Regions from separate parts of the Homo sapiens genome. Here region 2 is linked to region 1. The links come from fine-mapping of genetic effects on gene expression. A gene starts in region 1. The other region holds a variant in brackets. All regions are shown on one strand. Distances are between the middles of the regions.

Region 1 (2,914 bases):
GCTGGAAAGCCGCTTGCAGGAAATCACTCCATGGAGGTGCAGAGATAAGGCCCCAGACATTTTGGCCCAGTATGGGACAACTTTGACCGTCTTTTTCAGCTTCAGGACTCCCATGGAGTTGGGTGAGGTTGTTGGGCCCGCTTTGCTGCTAACTTCTCCCTCTGTTCTCTCCTGTTCCCCTTCTTCCTCCCACAGGGGTTTGTCCCAAGGGCACTCCCTAATACACATCCTGCATGTTAAACTCTTGTCTCAGAGTCTGCTTCCTGTAGATACCAAACTGTAAGAACATCTTATTGACTTAAATATAACCAAAATTGGAGAAACTTAGGAAACAAAATCATCATTACGTTATGTGCTGACATTTTAGCTTATTTCTATATTTCTTGTTTTGAATTGCTCATACTTAGCATGATAGTACCTCTCACATTTTGTTTCATTTAGGTTTGCTATTTCCACGTTCTCTTTCTTATAGGAACCATATTGTGAAAAGACATAAAGGTAATAGGGTAAAAAAAAGCAAATAGGCTCTTTATTACCCAGCCACTCAGGAAATGCACTATTTCAAGGTTGACCCAGGCAGCAAGAGAGGAGCTGTATTGGGGAATGTGACAGTGGTTTAGTTCTGAAACTGGAGCCAGTAGAAAGTTCTGAAGGGGGTCCGATGATCAGAACTGTCTGTGGGTTTAATAAAGGTGTATTTAATTTTATTTAAGCCTGGAGATTTAAATTGTCACTCAAAACTCTCAGACATGAATAGGGTTAGCAAATCTGTACACCAGGAAAGGAGTTATTTACATCCTGTCTTCTCCTACAGCTCCAGAGGAGGGCAGAACAGTGTATTTCCAGGCAAGCCCTCTCTTTAAAAACTCATAGCCAAGGCTGGGAAGACAGAGTGAGTGGGTGGGCCTTCTGGCAGCTTCCTTACCTTCAAATCTTTGCTCTCTGTGAAATGGTTCTGCTTCAGTATCCTTGTTCTGATTTTTCTGGGAACTAGATGTTACTGGGAGATGACTCAGAGCAGGCCAAGCCCTGATCCTCACTGTGGAAGCAAAAGAGGCTGGTGAAAGTCACTGTCCTGACAACTTGGACCAGAAACCTACAGACAAAACTGAAATGTTTTCCTGCCCTAGGATTATCTGGATAACAATGACCTTTGATGTTACAAAGTAAATAGAATTGTGTTTGGCTTTTCCTTTTGGGGCCATGCCTTGGAGAAGATGACTCCTTCAGAGCCGCTGTGAATATTGTAGATCTCATTATTTCAGATAATTACTTTGACCATCCTTTTCAATTTGAGAGTATGATGTGAGGCAAGGCAACTATTTGTGAGAAAAAAGAGAAAAGGCAAAGATCCACTGTCATACTTTTGCTTGTGGGTTCCAGTCCAGGCTTTCTATGGGGGGTGGGGGGGTGTCTCAGTCTCCCCGTCTGTAAAATGGGATTAGTGGATTAAATCCGGGAAGGTTGGACAAGCACCTAGGACGGTGCCTGGTGCCGTGTTCAGCAGACGTCGATTCCCTGTCCACCCCTTCTTTAGGAGCTGTGGGAAACACTTCATAACTCCCCAGGGTCTGGTGAACCCTTCCTCCCTTTTCTGTTCCCTGTTTTGGCATTGGAGATCATAAAAAGGCTCTTCCATGTCTCTTGCTTCCTTCCTTTCATCTTCTCCAAGAGAAGGAAGTGGCCGCCTTTGTTAGCTTGGGTTCAGAAGCTTGTGTCTGTCACCCAGGGCCGCCCAGCCCCGGGGTTTGCGAAGGTCCGGGGTAGGAGGGCTGCAGCCTGCGCGACGCGGCGGGAGGCTACCCGGGGGCGATGGGAAGGCGGGCGCAGTCGACCCAAGGGTGGAGAAGAGGGAAGGCGAAGGACGCGCGTTCCCGGGCTCGTGACCGCCAGCGGCCCGGGGAACCCGCTCCCAGACAGACTCGGAGAGATGGCAGGCGGAAGACACCGGCGCGTCGTGGGCACCCTCCACCTGCTGCTGCTGGTGGCCGCCCTGCCCTGGGCATCCAGGGGGGTCAGTCCGAGTGCCTCAGCCTGGCCAGAGGAGAAGGTGAGGGGCTGTTTCTGCGTAGTTGTACTTGAGCGGCTCTGGTCCGATGCGAGGACCCCTGGCCGGGTCAGCCCTACCTAGGCAGAGCGGGAGGCGGGGCAGGGCCACGGTCCCCAGCCCAGGCACCGGCGCCCCACCCGGCGCCCGGAGGAGTCGGGGCTCTGCATACTCGCCGGGGTGCCTCGGCCAGTCCGGGGCTGTTCTGGAGACGCCAGGGGGGCTGGGTGATGTCACTGGCCTCTCCTGGGCTGCGGTCTGATGGGGGTGCTGATAGGCACAGGAAATGTGTCTCGCCGGCGGCTGCTGAGCCGGGAGGCGAGGGCGCATCGCGGCGCCACCCCCCACTCGGGACCCTGGAGGGCAACGGGGCCGGCGCTCCGGGGCCGCTAGGGTGCGGGGTGCGCCTGGGGGTGTGCCCACAGCCCCCCCGCTGCTTCATCCAAGGATGCTGCTGGGGCGCTGAAGTGTCCCTACAGTCTCAGGACGGATGTGTGTTGTTTGTTTTAGATTTTTAAAAGGAGCAACTCGGCAGGAAGGACCTTTACTGGAGACCTGCTTACTTCAAAAGCCTTTTTCCTCCACTTAAAAGAGGGTACCTGCTATTTTCAGAGAAAATGGATCTAGTTGTAGGTAGAAATCGCATATAAGGAACTTAGGATAAAAGTGATTTGCAAGTTCCCTCTGTAAGAAGTGTATGGGTTCGGCCGGGCGGGGTGGCTCACGCCTGTAATCCCAGCACTTTGGGAGGCCGAGGCGGGTGGATCACGAGGTCAGGAGATCGAGACCATCAGGGCTAACATGGTGAAACCCTGTCTCTACTAAAAAATACAAAAAATCAGCCGGGCGTGGTGGCACGCACCTGTA
Region 2 (2,914 bases), 76 kb before region 1:
CTATGACAAGCATGTCACCTGTGAAAACTGGATGGGTAAAACAGCAACCTTCTGACAAAATGTGGCAAAGTATCCTAAGTATTTTAAGCTCCTGGAATGAATTAAGAATGAAATTTTACTTTTTTAAAAAAGATTTTACTCACGAAAATGTGTTCTAAAACTACTACCATAAAGCAAGATATTGGCAGTCCCTATAATGCCTATATTACCATAATCTAATTTTGCCTTCTTAAAAAAAAAAAAAAAAGAGAAGCAGTTAATTCAGATTCTTACCAGCCTCTTTAATAAACCAGTTTTTTATTTTTTATTTTTACCTGTAAAATAGCCACTTCATTACGGAGTTGACTTTCTTGTTTTGTGGGGAATCTCATCTTATCAATTACTTTAATAGCCACATCCCTCCCAGTCTTTCTATGTTTTCCTATTAAGAAAAAAAGAAGAGGAACGAATGAAGCAAACTGACAGCTTTATTAGGGAGTTGTCCACAGACTGAAATTTATATGTATTTACTCTTGAATTTTCTTTTTGGCTCATTTTTGTTCTTTCTCCACACTCCTTCACTCACCTTTAATTTAGGAAAAAATTGTTTTCCCCTCCATACATAATATTTGCCCCTAATAAAGTCAGCTGCATTATCTAAACAGGAGAAAATTTGAATGAACTTGTTGCTGAAAAGTAATCTACCTTGTTAAATCAATGATAGTTAATTACCCTGACCTAGTCCTTCAGAGACTCTGTCAAGATGGAAATACTGTATGAATGAATCAATTTTATTCTAGATTCAATGAGTCAGCACAGAGTGATTTAACCATGTACCCACAAACTCTGGGTGTCTCTATATTCTAGAATCTAGATATAAAAAATTTATATTTGTCTCTATATTCTAGAATCTAGATATTAAAAAAAGGTAGAAGTTTATTATAATGAACAGTCATTCCCTCATTTATTAATTCAAATTAACTAGTTATACCTATTATGTACTAGGTATGCCTTTAGATGCTACAGATTAAGCAGTGAAAATGACAGGTATATTTTTGGTATTTGTTCTTCAAATATGTATCTGACTTGCTCTTCTCTACATAGCTATTTATTTTAGATTAACTCATTTGTCTCAATGGCACAATCGTAAGTCTACTTGAAAAGACTGAACAAATGTGTGCATTTTTGGTAAGAAGCCAAAGGTACCTCGGACAGTTCTTTGTTCCTCTGATGACAGGAAGTCCTCCAGAGATGTAACTACTCTTAAAACTGACAAATCTGAAGTTGCAAACCATAGATATTATATATGCATGCAGAGTCAACACATTTTCTAGGCGACTGCTTTATGTCACAATACTAGGTGCTAGGAATACAAAGAAGATCCAGACATCTCACAGCCAACGCTCCAATAAAGTTCAGTGGGAAGACAATAATGTAAACCCAAAGGGTAATAGATATTGTGAGAGAAGTATGTTGGGTAGCAGGAGTACCAAAGGGGAACCATGTTTTTATTTGATGGAGAAATAGGTACGGGGACAAGAAATTTCCACAGAGAAAGCCCTTTAGTTGAGCCCTGAAGTATGAAAAAATGTGCACTAGAAGAGACAAAGGGATGGAGAAGGAGCAGAGAGGCAAAGGGTATGGAGGCATGTAAACAGGACTGAAAGATAGAAAGCAAAGAGGAAGCTGCAATTAGATCTGAGGCTAGAGAAGCAGGGATAAAT[T/C]ACAGCAGCCTTGAAATCCTCTGCTAAGAAAACTGGCTATGAATCTGTAGATGACTGTGAACCACTTAAGGGTTCTATGTGAGGTAATACTAATATCAGATGTGAATTTTCTGAAAGATTGACTCTAAGAGTTGTATGAAAAGAAGGTAAGAATGGAGGCAGAACAGCCAACTAGGAAACTACTGTACCAAGTCTTAGCAAGGGATAACAAGGGTTTAACATTTCTTTCTTAGTACCTTTACATATATTAAGTTTAATTAATATTTAAGCCCTATGAGCTACACAGGTCAGGTTTTATTAGTTCCATTAAACAGTTGAAGATGCTAACGCACAGTAAGGTTAAATGACTTCATCAATATCCTAAATCGCAAAGTTGGATTTCAGGTTCAGGTTTTCAGACTTAATAGAACAATCATGCCAACAGTAGACAAATGGTGCCATTTGTGTTGGAAAACTAGTAGGGAATATACTTCAATGAATAAGCCCACTCAGCCCAACATAAACTTCAAACCATCTCCCCCCCTGCCTCCGACAAACATCTGTATGTGTGAGCTACAAGAAGAGATAAAACACACTGTAAAATTTTCTGATTCTGTTAATTTTTAAAGTTTGCAATGACATTAAGGGAAGAATACTCAAATTACAGTGAGAAGGATTTAGCTGAAAGATAACAAGTCAGCCTTTAAAAAAAAGGCACTGGACAAAACTATGAGATGACAAAACAGCTGGCAGATGTTTTACATTTTCCAGTTTTTAAAATAATGTGTACAATATGCAAACGGCTGTAGTTGCTTACCTCCATAAACGATGCCAAACTGGCCTGAACCAAGCACCTCATCTGCAAAGATCTGGTAAACAGTACTGATATCCTGGTAGGATAAAGTAAGGAGTTAGTATTATTTATTTCTATAATACAATGTCAACATCTCTGACTTTCTTCATCCAAATACTTCAATACATTTTTATGTTAGAAGCAGCTAATTTCCATAAAGTGCAAACTATTTTATGAAAACACAGGCTTTCTATGTTCTAATAAGAGGTTAAGCCCAAATTTTATGTGCAAGTATAATGTATTGTGCAAGACTTTCAGGAAAAAAATGCTTTGCATTTTAAAAATCTTGTATTTAGGCCTGGCGTGGTGGCTCACGCCTGTAATCCCAGCACTTTGGGAGGCTGAGGCAGGTGGATCACCTGAGGTTGTGTGTTCCAGA

Direction of the effects. Alleles are on the strand shown, and positions count from the first base shown. SD is a standard deviation of normalised expression in the study named.
With allele C in place of T in region 2, the expression in tibial artery of the gene that starts at base 1,829 in region 1 is higher (small effect, 0.33 SD a copy in GTEx).

What was found. PIP is the estimated chance that this variant, and not a neighbour inherited with it, causes the effect.
Region 2: its variant is the best candidate, but not a certain one, in a credible set for the expression of QPCT in tibial artery (GTEx, PIP 0.67).

The regions. Positions count from the first base shown.
Region 1 is chr2:37,342,802-37,345,715 of GRCh38, forward strand. QPCT (glutaminyl-peptide cyclotransferase) reads left to right here and starts at 1,829. Exons shown (of 7, transcript NM_012413.4): 1 at 1,829-2,050. The coding sequence starts at 1,931. LOC124907754 (a long non-coding RNA gene) reads right to left here and starts at 2,254. Exons shown (of 2, transcript XR_007086284.1): 1 at 926-2,254. RefSeq lists a silencer at 2,200-2,259.
Region 2 is chr2:37,267,116-37,270,029 of GRCh38, forward strand. PRKD3 (protein kinase D3) reads right to left here. Exons shown (of 19, transcript NM_005813.6): 13 at 2,500-2,572; 14 at 315-421. It also overlaps a transcript of NDUFAF7 not described here. Among named protein-coding and RNA genes, the nearest start is that of NDUFAF7, 37 kb to the left of the region's middle. The variant T/C (reference allele first, on the strand shown) is at 1,704.